Linked DNA regions of Homo sapiens: all the other regions are reported to be linked to region 3. Evidence: microRNA targets listed by miRTarBase, many of them from high-throughput screens and not tested one by one. Region 3 holds a microRNA gene; each other region holds the end of a gene's coding sequence.
The links. Region 3 holds the annotated microRNA hsa-miR-4699-3p (AAUUUACUCUGCAAUCUUCUCC, at 1,888-1,909, opposite strand). A microRNA usually pairs through its seed, bases 2 to 8, with sites in the 3' UTR of a target mRNA and lowers its output. Matches are read on the target gene's strand: a 7mer-m8 pairs with bases 2 to 8, a 7mer-A1 pairs with bases 2 to 7 and ends in A, and an 8mer does both.

Region 1: the mRNA of MRPL34 is a reported target of hsa-miR-4699-3p. Seed matches in the 3' UTR shown: 7mer-A1 at 620-626.
Region 2: the mRNA of RAB18 is a reported target of hsa-miR-4699-3p. Seed matches in the 3' UTR shown: 8mer at 711-718 and 7mer-m8 at 3,065-3,071.
Region 4: the mRNA of DNAJC28 is a reported target of hsa-miR-4699-3p. The part of its 3' UTR that is shown has no 7-base or 8-base seed match.

Annotation. Positions count from the first base shown.
Region 1 is chr19:17,306,089-17,309,247 of GRCh38, forward strand. MRPL34 (mitochondrial ribosomal protein L34) reads left to right here. Exons shown (of 2, transcript NM_023937.4): 2 at 78-755. The coding sequence ends at 291. Among named protein-coding and RNA genes, the nearest start is that of MRPL34, 1.8 kb to the left of the region's middle. RefSeq lists a silencer at 38-97 and enhancers at 2,778-3,159, 3,061-3,159.
Region 2 is chr10:27,537,462-27,540,620 of GRCh38, forward strand. It overlaps RAB18 (RAB18, member RAS oncogene family), which reads left to right. Exons shown (of 7, transcript NM_021252.5): 7 at 415-3,159. The coding sequence ends at 590. Among named protein-coding and RNA genes, the nearest start is that of LINC02680, 27 kb to the right of the region's middle.
Region 3 is chr12:81,157,183-81,160,341 of GRCh38, reverse strand. It overlaps MIR4699 (microRNA 4699), which reads right to left and starts at 1,954; the gene lies at 1,881-1,954. The region is part of intron 7 of ACSS3 (acyl-CoA synthetase short chain family member 3); the gene reads right to left.
Region 4 is chr21:33,485,554-33,488,685 of GRCh38, forward strand. DNAJC28 (DnaJ heat shock protein family (Hsp40) member C28) reads right to left here. Exons shown (of 2, transcript NM_001040192.3): 2 at 2,502-3,132. The coding sequence ends at 2,674. Among named protein-coding and RNA genes, the nearest start is that of DNAJC28, 4.6 kb to the right of the region's middle.

The DNA.
Region 1 (3,159 bases), not on the chromosome of region 3:
CGAGGCTCAGAGAGGTTGAGCGCCAAGGTCACCCAGCGCCCCGTCTGACCTTTCTCGCCGTCCCTCTACCCACGCAGGTGGCTCCAGCCCCGGGCCTGGCTGGGGTTCCCAGACGCCTGGGGCCTCCCCACCCCGCAGCAGGCCCGGGGCAAGGCTCGCGGGAATGAGTATCAGCCGAGCAACATCAAACGCAAGAACAAGCACGGCTGGGTCCGGCGCCTGAGCACGCCGGCCGGCGTGCAGGTCATCCTTCGCCGAATGCTCAAGGGCCGCAAGTCGCTGAGCCATTGAGGATCGCGACGCAGTCGGCGGGACCCTCATGGAAGCATCGCCCTCGCCTCGGACCTTGCCTGGCGCTATTTTTGCAGGGAGCTGGGGAGCAGGAACGCCTCGGACCTGAGTGCTCTCCATATTGTGGGGTTGAAGTCTGGATGGGAGCTTGCCAAGTCCCTTTTTAGGCTTTTTAATTAGGAAGCATTTCGAACCTGCGCAACAGACCAAAGAACAGTACAAAGAACATCCGTGTACCCAGTACCCTGACTACCGACTACCTACAACCCGTCCCTGCCCCATCCTGAGTTCTTTTGAAGCTGATCTCAGGCATCGGATTATTTCTTCTGTAAATATTTCAGAATGTATCTCTCCAAGATGAGAGCTCATTAAAAGACAATTACAAAGCTTATCACATCCAAAAGAATTATCAATAATTTTGAAATATTATTAAACGTGTAATAAATGTTCAAAGTTCCACTTGCCTTATATGTGTCATAACTCTTTTTTTTTTTTGAGACAGTTTCCCTTTTGTTGCCCAGGTTGGAGTGCAATGGGGGGATCTCGGCTCATTAAAACCTCCGCCTTGCGGGTTCAAGCGATTCTCCTGCCTCACCCTCCCGAGTAGCTGGGATTACAGGCATGCGCCACCACGCCCGGCTAATTTTGTATTTTTAGTAGAGATGGGGTTTCTCCATGTTGGTCAGGCTGGTCTCGAGCTCCCGACCTCAGGTGATCCGCCCTCCTCTGCCTCCCAAAGTGCTGGGATTACAGGCATGAACCACTGCGCTCTGTCCCCCAGGCTGGAGTGCAGTGGCACGATCTCGGCTCACTGCAAACTCCCTCTCCTGGGTTCAAGCAATCTCCTGCCTCAGCCTCCCGAATAGCTGGGATTATAGGCGCCCACCACCACACCCGGCTAATTTTTGTATTTTTAGTAGAGACGGGGTTTCAACCATGTTGGCCAGGCTGGTCTCGAACTCCTGACCTCAGGTGATCTGCCTGCCTCGGCCTCCCAAAGTGCTGGGATTACAGGTGTGAGCCGTCATGCCCAGCCTGTGTCATAAATTTTATAGGTCTGGGAAGACTGGTGGAAAACTGTGTGTGTGTGCGGGGGGGTGTTTGTTTTTGAAACAGGGTCTCGCTCTGTCACCCAGGCTGGAGTGCAGTTGTCGGATCCCTGCTTACTGCAACCTCTGCCTCCTGGGTTCAAGCAATTCTGGTGCCTCAGCCTCCCAAGTAGCTGGGATTACAGGTGCATGCCACCACGCCCAGCTAATTTATGTATTTTTAGTAGAGGGGAGTTTCACCATGTTGACCAGGCTGGTCTTGAACTCCAGCCCATAAGGAGTTTGAATCTTCCACTTGTCCCTTGGGGATGTTTGATTTTGAGCAAGAATTTAACACTGTGAGGTGCATTTGTCGCCTATAAAATGCAGTGCTGGTTTCTCCTCTGCTCTGTTGCTGTTGGAGTAATAATACTTAGTAGCTTCCACTTAGCAACTTCACTGTGCAATTGCTGTGTGCTGGGTGCCCATTCTTTGCCCTGGAAGTCAGGAAGGCAGTTTGGACACAGAGGTGTCAGGGCTGGGAGGGGGATTGTGAGGGCTGTAGGACTTCAGGGAAGGTACCTGACTTGCCTTTTTGAAGAATGCAGTCAGGGAAGTCTTGGAGGAAATGGCAAGGTCTGGGAGAGCCCAGACATAGAAGGAATTGGTTAGAGGTGAGGACACAGGTGGGCAATGAAGACCGCAGGTGCCCATAAATGGGGCCAAGGAGGTGGGATTGAATACTAGGGAGTTACGGGAGGTGGTTGAGCAAGACGGTGTCGAGGAGGAGCTAGGGAGTGTTATGGTTCTTATCTTCTAGGGCTGCTTTAAAAACGTAATAAACACAAGAAGATGCCGGCACGATGGCTCCCAGAACTTTGGGAAGCCAAGTCTGGAGGATTGCTTGAGGCCAGAAGTTCGAGACCAGCTTGGGAAACATAGCAAGACCCCTGTGTCTTTTTTTTTTTTTTCTTTTGAGAGGGAGTTTAGCTCTTGTTGCCCAGACTGGACTGTAGTGGCTTAATCTCGGCTGACTGACACCTCCGCCTTCTGGTTTTAAGCGATTCTCCTGCCTCAGCCTCTTGAGTAGCTGGGATGACAGGCGCCCGCCACCACGCCCGGCTAATTTTTGTATTTTAGTAGAGATGGGGTTTCACCATGTTGGCCAGGCTGGTCTCAAACTCCTGACCTCGTGATCCGCCCGCCTCGGCTTCCCAAAGTGCTGGGATTGCTGGGATTACAGGCGTGAGCCACCGTGCCCCGCCTTTTTTTTTTTGAGACAGAGTCTCCCTCTGTCCGCCAGGCTGGAGTGCAGTGGCGCGATCTCAGCTCACTGCAAGATCCGCCTCACTCACGGTTCACGCCGTTGTCCTGCTTCGGCCTCCGGAGTAGCTGGGACTACAGGCGTCCGCCACCACGCCCGGCTAATTTTTTGTATTTTTAGTAGAGACGTGGTTTCACCGTGTTAGCCAGGACGGTCTCGATCTCCTGACCTCGTGATCCACCCGCGTCGGCCTCCCAAAGTGCTGGGATTACAGGCGTGAGCCACTGCGCCCGGCTGGCTTTTTTTTTTTTTTTTTGAGACTGATTTTCGCTCTTGTTGCCCAGGCTGGAGTGCAATGGCACGATCTTGGCTCACTGCAACCTCCGCCTCCCGGGTTCAAGTGATTCTCCTGCCTCAGCCTCCCTACTAGCTGGAATTACAGGCGCAGAGATGGGGTTTCACCATGCTGGCCAGGCTGGTCTCGAACTGCTGACCTCAGGCGATCTACCCGCCTCGGCCTCCCAAAGTGCTAAGATTACAGGAGTGAGCCACCGCACCCGGCCGAACCTCGCATCT
Region 2 (3,159 bases), not on the chromosome of region 3:
AAGGCACAGAATAATCAGATTAATTGTTTAACTTGTATGAATTTCTTTATTTTAAAATAGGAATAATATCTGCCTTGGGAGCAAGTTGTAAGAGTTAACTGAAAGCTTAAGGAAAAAACTTTCGCTCGCTATTTAAGTAGGGCTTTACAAGTTACAATTCTATCACAGTTTTAAGATTATAAACCAGTGTTTTTTTGGTATAAAATTATATACTAGTATTCTTATGGATAGAATTTAATTAGCTCAATTTTGAGATTTGGAAATTCACTAGTTATTGACCTTTGGGGAAAAATTGCTGATTTGGATCTTAATATATTGTAGGCTGATATTTATGCCCTGATAGTTTCCCAGAAAAACATGAGAATATGGCCAGAAAGGAATATACTATGAATGACCTTTTTCCTTGAATTTCAGAGGCAAGTGCAAAAACCTGTGATGGTGTACAATGTGCCTTTGAAGAACTTGTTGAAAAGATCATTCAGACCCCTGGACTGTGGGAAAGTGAGAACCAGAATAAAGGAGTCAAACTGTCACACAGGGAAGAAGGCCAAGGAGGAGGAGCCTGTGGTGGTTATTGCTCTGTGTTATAAACTCTGGGAAATTCCATCTCTTGCATATTTGATCAGATAGTGACATCTTTCTGTATATAAACTCTTTAACTGCTATTTTAGGGACCTTGCAGTTTGCACATAATTGTTTTATATCATAGCAGTAAATATTTGCAAGAAATCCCACTCATCGACCCCGGGTAAAATGTTATGGTAAGCATGCACAGTTTGCAGTCTACAGTTTTTTTATGTAGCACAAAATAGGTGTACCTTTATAAGTACATTCAATTTTATGATTTACATTTATCATGTAATTTTTAAAAAAATCCATCTATCTAGGATATGTTGATACAAAGTCTGCTTTTGCTATTCTTTTTGCTTAAATACTCCTATCATTTTCTGAATTACTTGGTATTTAGAACTCCTAGCACCACGGGGAAGAATAGAGGTATCATCAAACGTGGCAAATTTTCTTTCAGGAATAATAAAGAGCATGATTCCACAGCTTTTCTGGGATGTTTGAGATTCTTTTTTAGTACTAAGCAAAATTCTCATCACAGAATGTAGCCCAGGCCAATTTATAACTAAATCTCTATTTGTTCGGATGATGCTTCTAAAACAGCATTGATAGGTTAAAGAAGCTTGGTATTTTTAATTTACTTCAATGATTAGCTCAGTTGCTTAACTGGAGTTTTAATCCTGTGATATGTACATTGGATTCATGACTGTGCAGCATTTTTAGTTATGTGGTGTTTGGCAGAATGACAATAAGGTTTTCCCCCATTTTGGTTTCAGGAGGACATGAATAGTGTGTTTATTGTAACTCCTCATACACTTTTAAAACCAACATCTTTTTTCATAAATGTTGGTAGTGTTTGTCCAGGTACCTTAACTGTAGCTTGTGTAATGTTGATGAATATCTGTATCTTACGGCTTCCATAATGGCTAGTTGATATTCAAAAACCTATTTCTGTGTTTTGAGGGGTGGGGAAAAAAAACACTAAGTGATAATTTGAAAAAGGCATATTGCTTCCAGATTCTGATGTGTGAGGGAAAATACTGTCACAATGAAAATCTTGACAATTTACTTAACAAGTAACCAGTAGTTCATCAAAACCAACTTGTACAGACTAATAAATCTTTTTCACAGTATTCAGTTTTCTCACCTCTTGCTATTGTATATTGTAGATTTTTTTCATTCATGTGTTATTTAATTTACACTGATCTCTGCTATTTTAACCCCCCAAATAAGTTATTTGTCCTTTAAGGTTGGTTACTATAATACCCCTCAGTAAGATTCCAGTATTAATTTCTGGGCAGTTTGTTCTCTGTATACAATTGCAAATGATAAGCATTTTTGTGAGTGACCACCTTTGCAATATGTTTGTTAATTTACTTCATGTTGGGTTCTTTCTGAAATGTACATCTTTACATATAAAAACCTCACATTCTACTTGATTTACACTTCCTAGTCTACATTACATGTGGTTGAAGGTTTTATACATTCTATATGCTTTTACTAAATATACAAGATTTACTACTAGAAATTTGGAGAAAGAACACTAACACATGTACTTGTGATTTGTTCATGTTATATTAAAACTTGAGATTTGTGTATTTATGTAGAGTCTGTATTGACAAGACTGTTGTTTTTTGCTCCTTGAGCTATATAATAATCTGTGTATTGGATTGTTGTCTTGATTTGGTCTAAATTTGAATATATATGAGTTACTTGAATATAACAAAAATGAATTTTGTTTGATAGATTTATATTGTAACCTTTTTCTAGTTCTTGAATAAATATAGCCTGCTTTCCCTAGATGCATTTGTGTAGGAAGTATATACATTTCCCTATTACTCTCATCAGCTGAAGAATATGTACTATTGTGTTACTCAAATTATGTGGCTTTCATTTTGTTGTTTTGTTGCAAGCTTAGTGTTTTGTAGTGGAGGTTTTGTAAATGAAACAGTTGTAATATCTAAGGTCAGGCACCTAGTAACAGGGTTTTGTTAATTCTTTTCAGAATCATTGAAGCAGTCTTAAAGGGTCTTTTGCAGATGGTACAAATTAGAACAATTAGAATATAGTATTTTGAGTTCTAGTAGTACTGAGATTGACCCAAACAAATAAAAAACTATTCAATTTCTGAGTAATAGTTAATATTTATTGAAAGCTTCCTTGGTGCCAGATGCCTTTCTAAGTGCTGAATTATCTCATTAAACCTCACAGCAACCTTAAGAGATTAGTACTCCTATTATGCCCATTTTAAAGGTGAGGACAACACAATGTAGGTATGTTAGGTAACCCCCAAAGATCACATAGCTACTCAGTCACTGAGCTGGATTCCAGTCATGGCATTTTTACTTCTGAGCCCATACTCTTCACCATCGCTCATTTTACAATGGGTAGTTAGTTACCAGCTTTTTGTAACACAACCAAGTTAAGGCAGTTCCACTATTTCTTTATCACTCTTTTGTTATATGTAATAGAAGTATTTCACACTTTTGGGTTATAGAGTAAATCCCATGATGTAAACCTACCTCATAAGTCATGTGACATAAAAGTTAAGGTAGTGGAGTAGGTGGTCTTATTTCTTTCACCTGCTCAGAG
Region 3 (3,159 bases):
CTGCCCTTGCTAATCTAGTAAACATACTGAAGAATTTATTGAAAAGGCTTGTTGCTGTGATGTATACCATATGTGAAATACAAACAAATGTAAAATGAGAGCAAACTTATATCCCTTGACTGGAAAAGAAGACTGTTATTACATAAAAATGACAACTGCTATATCAAGACCAATTATACCAACCAGTTTATGGCTTACTCTAAAGCCGGATTTAAGGAGAAACAGTAACTACTAACATTCCATTTTAGACCTACGTAATACTCTAGCCAAGGAACAGTAATCTCATTTCTTGCTTAACCACACCACTGTCATTGTGGAAGCCTGGGCTTACTGTATCATGAAATTGAAATATGTGTACAACACACACTTTTGCACATTGGTAGACAGCAAAGATAAGGAGAAAGGCAGGACACGGAAAGATTTATTTGCCTTAGAGAAATGTGTTGGATTTTGATTCTGCAGATGACAGTCTGGTAAAGGGAAGAAATACTAGAAAGAAGAGAGAGGCAAGGGAGCATATCTCTGTATAATCACCATTTGCCATCACACACATGTGAATGCGCATACACACTAGGCTGTTAGCTAAATTTGTTTGTACATTGCATTCCTATGTGAAAAGATTGCTTGTGTTTTATCCCTTCTCTTTGGCAAAACCATCCTACCAAATATCTGTTCTTGTTCATACACGGTTAGGGTTAGATCTATTGGAATCACTGCTCTATTAATGAAGTAGATTTCTAAAGAAGTACCATTCAATTTTTTCCTCTCAAAAGTAAAGACTAAATTATTCAGAATTGGTTTCCATATTTTAACTGGTCAATCCAATTTTCCTTCAAGAATTGCATACTTTAAACATCTCATACTGCACTGACTGAGCTGGCCAGGTGTTTTGTATTTAAATATGTCCAATTCCATTGATAAAAGTAAATCTCTGTCTATAAAACATATATCCTGACTTATTCCTTTATTATTTGGTAACTTTATTATTCTTTCCTGGTTTTGGGCATATTTTGTTCCTTTTTTCCTAGGTTCTTGAGATAGGAGCTTATATTCTTGATTTGAGTGTTTTCCTCTTTTCTAATCTATCTATTTAGTGCTATAAATTTCCCTCTCAGAAAATAAACTACTTAAATACAGGTGTTCTGTATTTAAATATGTCCAATTCCACTGATAAAAGTAAATCTCTGTCTATAAAACATATAACCTGACTTATATAAGTTGCTCATGCAGTCCTGTTGTAAAAAAAAGAAAATTTAAATTACTCTTACTCATTGATAGAAAAAATCTTTACGTATAAATCAAGTTTTCTTCTGATATTGTCATTCAGGCATTTATTTAACAAATATGTATTAAATACTGAATATGTGTCATTAAGGCAAGGAGCTGAGAATTGACGGTGGACACAAACTCAGATGACTCCTTCCTTAGTACAGTTAGAGGAAAGAAGGGCAAACGAACACATCAAAGGAGCCTAAAGACTAATATGAATCTGCAAGTTTTATACAAACCACCAAGGGAAAATGCAATGTGCTAAAAGACCATGATAAAGGGATTTGACCTAATCAGGGAGGTCAAGGAGGGCTTCCCTGAGGAAGTGACACCAGCTGAAATCTAACAGACAAGTAGCATATATTTCAGGCAATGTTCCTGGGACAGGAATGAGCATAAGAATAACTGCAGGGAAACAGGAGCATGTGGTACATTAGACAGGAGCACGTTGTACCTTGGAAGGAAAGAGAATGATTAGGATCGAGCAAATGGCCAACACTTTCAAATGCTGAGGAGTCAAGCACAGTGAAGACTGAAAATGCCCATTGACTTTGGCAAGTAGAGATGACTGGGGATGTTAGGAAAAGCTGTAGCTATGGAATGATGGTGACAGCAATTGGAGAAGATTGCAGAGTAAATTCCATTTCTTAATCAGGAACTTACTCTGCAATCTTCTCCAATTGCTGTTGAAGCTGTTGAGTGTAGACAAGGCCTTAAAGAGAGAATGTTGTAGCTGTCAGGAGATAAGGGATTAGAGATTTTTGTTGTTGTTTGTTTTAATGAGGTAGTTTTATGAATTTGTTTGAAAATGTGGTAATTATCAGGAAAATAAGCAGATTTACATGCAGTTGTAAGAAGTAATACAGAGATATACCCTTTAACCAGTTTTCCCCAGGTGTAAAAACTGCAAAACTACAATATGTTATCACAATCAGAATATTGATACAGTCAAGATACAAACCAGTTCATCTCTACAAGGATCCTTCGTGATGCCCTTTATGGCCATATGTGGCCATTGCTGATTTATAGAGACACAATGAATATTTGTATGTTAATCTTGTATCCTGAGACTGGGTTGAACTCACTTATTAGTTATGGGATTTGTGTGTGTGTGTGTGTGTGTGTGTGTGTGTGTGTGTGTATTCTGTAATCATTTATGCAAATAATCATGCCATCTGCAAATAAAGACAATTTTATTTCTACCCTTCTGGTGTGTATGCCTTTTCTTCCTCTATATTTCTGTTTATATTTATTTATTTATTTTTTGAGAGGGAGTCTTGCTCTGTTGCCCAGGCTGGAGTGCAGTGTTGCGATCTTGGCTCACTGCAACTTCCACCTCCTGGGTTCAAGCGATTCTCTTGCCTCAGCCTCCCGAGTAGCTGGGACTATAGGTGCGCACCACCATGCCTGGCTAATTTTTGTATTTTTAGTAGAGATGGGGTTTCACCATATTGGTCAGGCTGACCTTGAACTCCTGACCTCATGATCTGCCCGCCTTGACCTCCCAAAGTGCTGGGATTACAGGCGTGAGCCACCGCGCCCAGCTTCCCTATACTTCTTTATTAAATGAGCTAGAACTTCCACAGATATGTTGAATAGAGGGTGAGAGTGGAAATACTTGCCTTGTTCCTGAACAACAGAGGAGAAACAATCAGGCTTTTATGATTAGGTATGATATTAGCAGCAGGTTTTTTCATAGGTGATCTTTTGTCAGGTTGAGGAAGTTCCTTTCAATTACTAGTTTTCTGATAGCTCTTCATTATGAATGAATGTTGAATTTATTAAACAACTTTTTCTACATCAATTAATATGATTATATAATTTTTCTGTAGCCTATTAATATGGTAGATTACCTTGATTAATTTTCAGATATTGAAGCAGCCTTGTACC
Region 4 (3,132 bases), not on the chromosome of region 3:
ATAGACAACATTTACAAACATAAAGTGCACTGTGCTGAAATTAAAAATTTACTGACATTTTCTGGTAACCTTACCTTCTCATTGACCAATATGGAAAATGGTTTTGTTCATCTATGTTGCTGTAATGCAGTTAAGCCTCTTACGTCTAATTCCCACTTTTTTTTTTTTTTTAAGACGGAGTCTTGCTCTGTCACCCAGGCTGGAGTGCAGTGGCGCGATCTCGGCTCACTGCAAGCTCCACCTCCTGGGTTCGTGCCATTCTGCTGCCTCAGCCTCCCCAGCAGCTGGGACTACAGGCGCACACCGCCATGCTCAGCTAAATTTTTTTGTATTTTTAGTAGAGACAGGGTTTCACCGTGTTAGCCAGGATGGTCTCAATCTCCTGACCTCATGATCCGCCCGCCTGGGCCTCCCCAAGTGCTGGGATTACAGGCATGAGCCACCGCGCCCGGCCTCGAATTCCCACTTTTAACAAGAGTCACAAAATTACTGCCTTCTAAAATGTTTTTGGAACTATAGCTCTTATTAAGCAACATTCCATACTGTTCACAATTTTATTTACAGTGATACTATCATTGTAGAAACCAAATGACAAATCATTCAATAAATTATAATCACATATTATGCCAATTAATGCTGCAGCATCTAAGCTAAAGGCCAAAAATTTCTTTTTGAAGGTGTAGTTTTGTTTGTTGTTTTAACTATCACACATTTTACAAAATAACACTTTCTTCCAAAATGCAGGTGGTGAGTCCCTCACTTCTGAACCACTTCTGTAACACAGCACTCTGGATTAAAGAAGGAAACACTGCACTCCAGCCTGGGCAACAACAGCAAAACTCCATTTCAAAAAAACAAAGTGGCCACTGGACCAGGCACAGTGGCTCGCGCCTGTAATCCCAGCACTTTGGGAGGTTAAGGCAGGTGGATCACCTGAAGTCAGGAGTTCGAGACCAGCCTGGCCAAAATGGTGAAACCCCATCTCTACTAAAAAAAATAAAAATTGGCTGGGCGTGGTGACGGGCACCTCTAATCCCAGCTACTTGGGAGGCTGAGGTAGGAGAATCACTTGAACCCAGGAGGCGGAGGTTGCAGTGAGCCAAGATTGCACCATTGCACTCCAGCCTGGGCAACAAGAGTGAAACTCCATCTCAAAAAAAAAAAAAAAAGCGGACACTGGAGTTTTTTTCTAGAATTGCTAAATCAACTAGCTTCACTGATTTCTGCAGCCAATAAACCATCAAGTTAGACAGGAAAAAGTAGAATCTGGATGTTTGGTGTGTTTTTCATTCAGTACCCACAGAGAAGGCCCTCATAAAAAGAAAAGTACAGTAATTCCAGTAGGCTAATTTTCTGATCTTAATATTTCCACCCATATGGAGGGTGTCCCAAAAGTCTTGGAACGGTTTTGAGCCTTAATAAGTTCAGGAATATAAATCCAGCAAGCTCGTTTAAAAAAAAAAGTCATCTGGAGGTTTAATTGGTTAAATTTCATAACACTTCAGTTTTGTGACTTTTGATAACATATTTTTCGGTTTCCCTGTTGTTTAAGTACCTATGTTTGAAAATGGCAACAGTCACTGCTTTTAAGTTAGTTATTACAGCTCAAAACTGCACCAAAACTTTTGGAATTCATGTATGATTCCTAAGTCAGAAACCTGATCCTAGCTCATTTCACTGGATGACCAACATTTTAACACTAGAATGAACTAAATTATTTTCTTTAGAAGTTTCAGTTATTTTTGGCCAGGCATGGTGGCTCACGCCTGTAATCCCAGCACTTTGGGAGGCCAAGGGGGGCGGATCATGAGGTCAAGAGATCGAGACCATCCTGGCCAACATGGTGAAACCCCATCTCTATTAAAAATATAAAAATTAGGCCGGGCATGGTGGCTCAAGCCCGTAATCCCAGCACTTTGGGAGGCCAAGGCAGGTGGATCATGAGGTCAGGGGTTTGAGACCATCCTGGCCAACATGGTGAAACCCCGTCTCTACAAAAAATACAAAAATAGGCCAGGCGCGGTGGCTCACACCTGTAATCCCAGCACTTTGGGAGGCCGAGGCGGGCGGATCACGAGGTCAGGAGATCAAGACCATCCTGGCTAACACAGTGAAACCCCGTCTCTACTAAAAATACAAAAAATTAGCTGGGCGTGGTGGCAGGCGCCTGTAATCCCAGCTACTCAGGAGGCTGAGGCTGGAGAATGGCGTGAACCCAGGAGGTGGAGCTTGCAGTGAGCCGAGATCGCGCCACTGCACTCCAGCCTGGGCGACAGAGTGAGACTCTGTCTCAAAAAAAAAGAAAACAAAATACAAAAATAGCCGGGTATGGTGGTGTGTGCCTATAATCCCAGCTATTCGGGAGTCTGAGGCAGGATAATCACTTGAACCTGGGAAGCAGAGGTTGCAGTGAGCCTAGATTGTGCCATTGCACTCCAGCCTGGGTGACAGAGCGAGACGCCGTCTCAAAAAAAAAGGAGTTTCAGTTATTTTCTTTTCTTGCTATATCCTCAGGACAAACCTGATAGGTTTCTCACTCACACATCATTGGCTATGTGATTAGTTTTGTGATAAGTACAATGGCACAATTCTTAAATTCTTGTATTATAGCAATAAATCTCATTTTCCATGTAAAGTGTCAGTGGAACTAAGAATGATTTATGATAGTAAACATCAAAATGATCGTATTTTAATAAATTTCCACAGATTCATCCAGTTTAAAAAACCTTTCTTGATTTCAGGTGTTTTCTCTCCTTCTCCTTGATCAAGGTTATTTGGGTTTCTATCTGTGACTTCTTTTGTTTTTATAAGGGTCTCGTATATTTTCTGGGCTCTGACAATTTCTTTCTGAGCATCAAAATGGACTTTTTGCCTGGTCAGGATGGGAACAATTAAATTAAAATCATTAATTCGCTTGTTTAATTTTCTGATGTTTTCTTGAAACTGCTCACAAACATGGTTCCACTGTTTCTTTTCAGTTGGTGTCATTGGATTCCCAAGTTTTTTCCTAGACACTAAAATTGCCTCTCTGAGTTGCTCAATAGTATCGCTTATTTCCTTTTGCTTAAGGATCCATTCTGGTTGGTATCCATTATCGATCAGTATTCGGTTCAGGTTGTGAGTCATGGGATC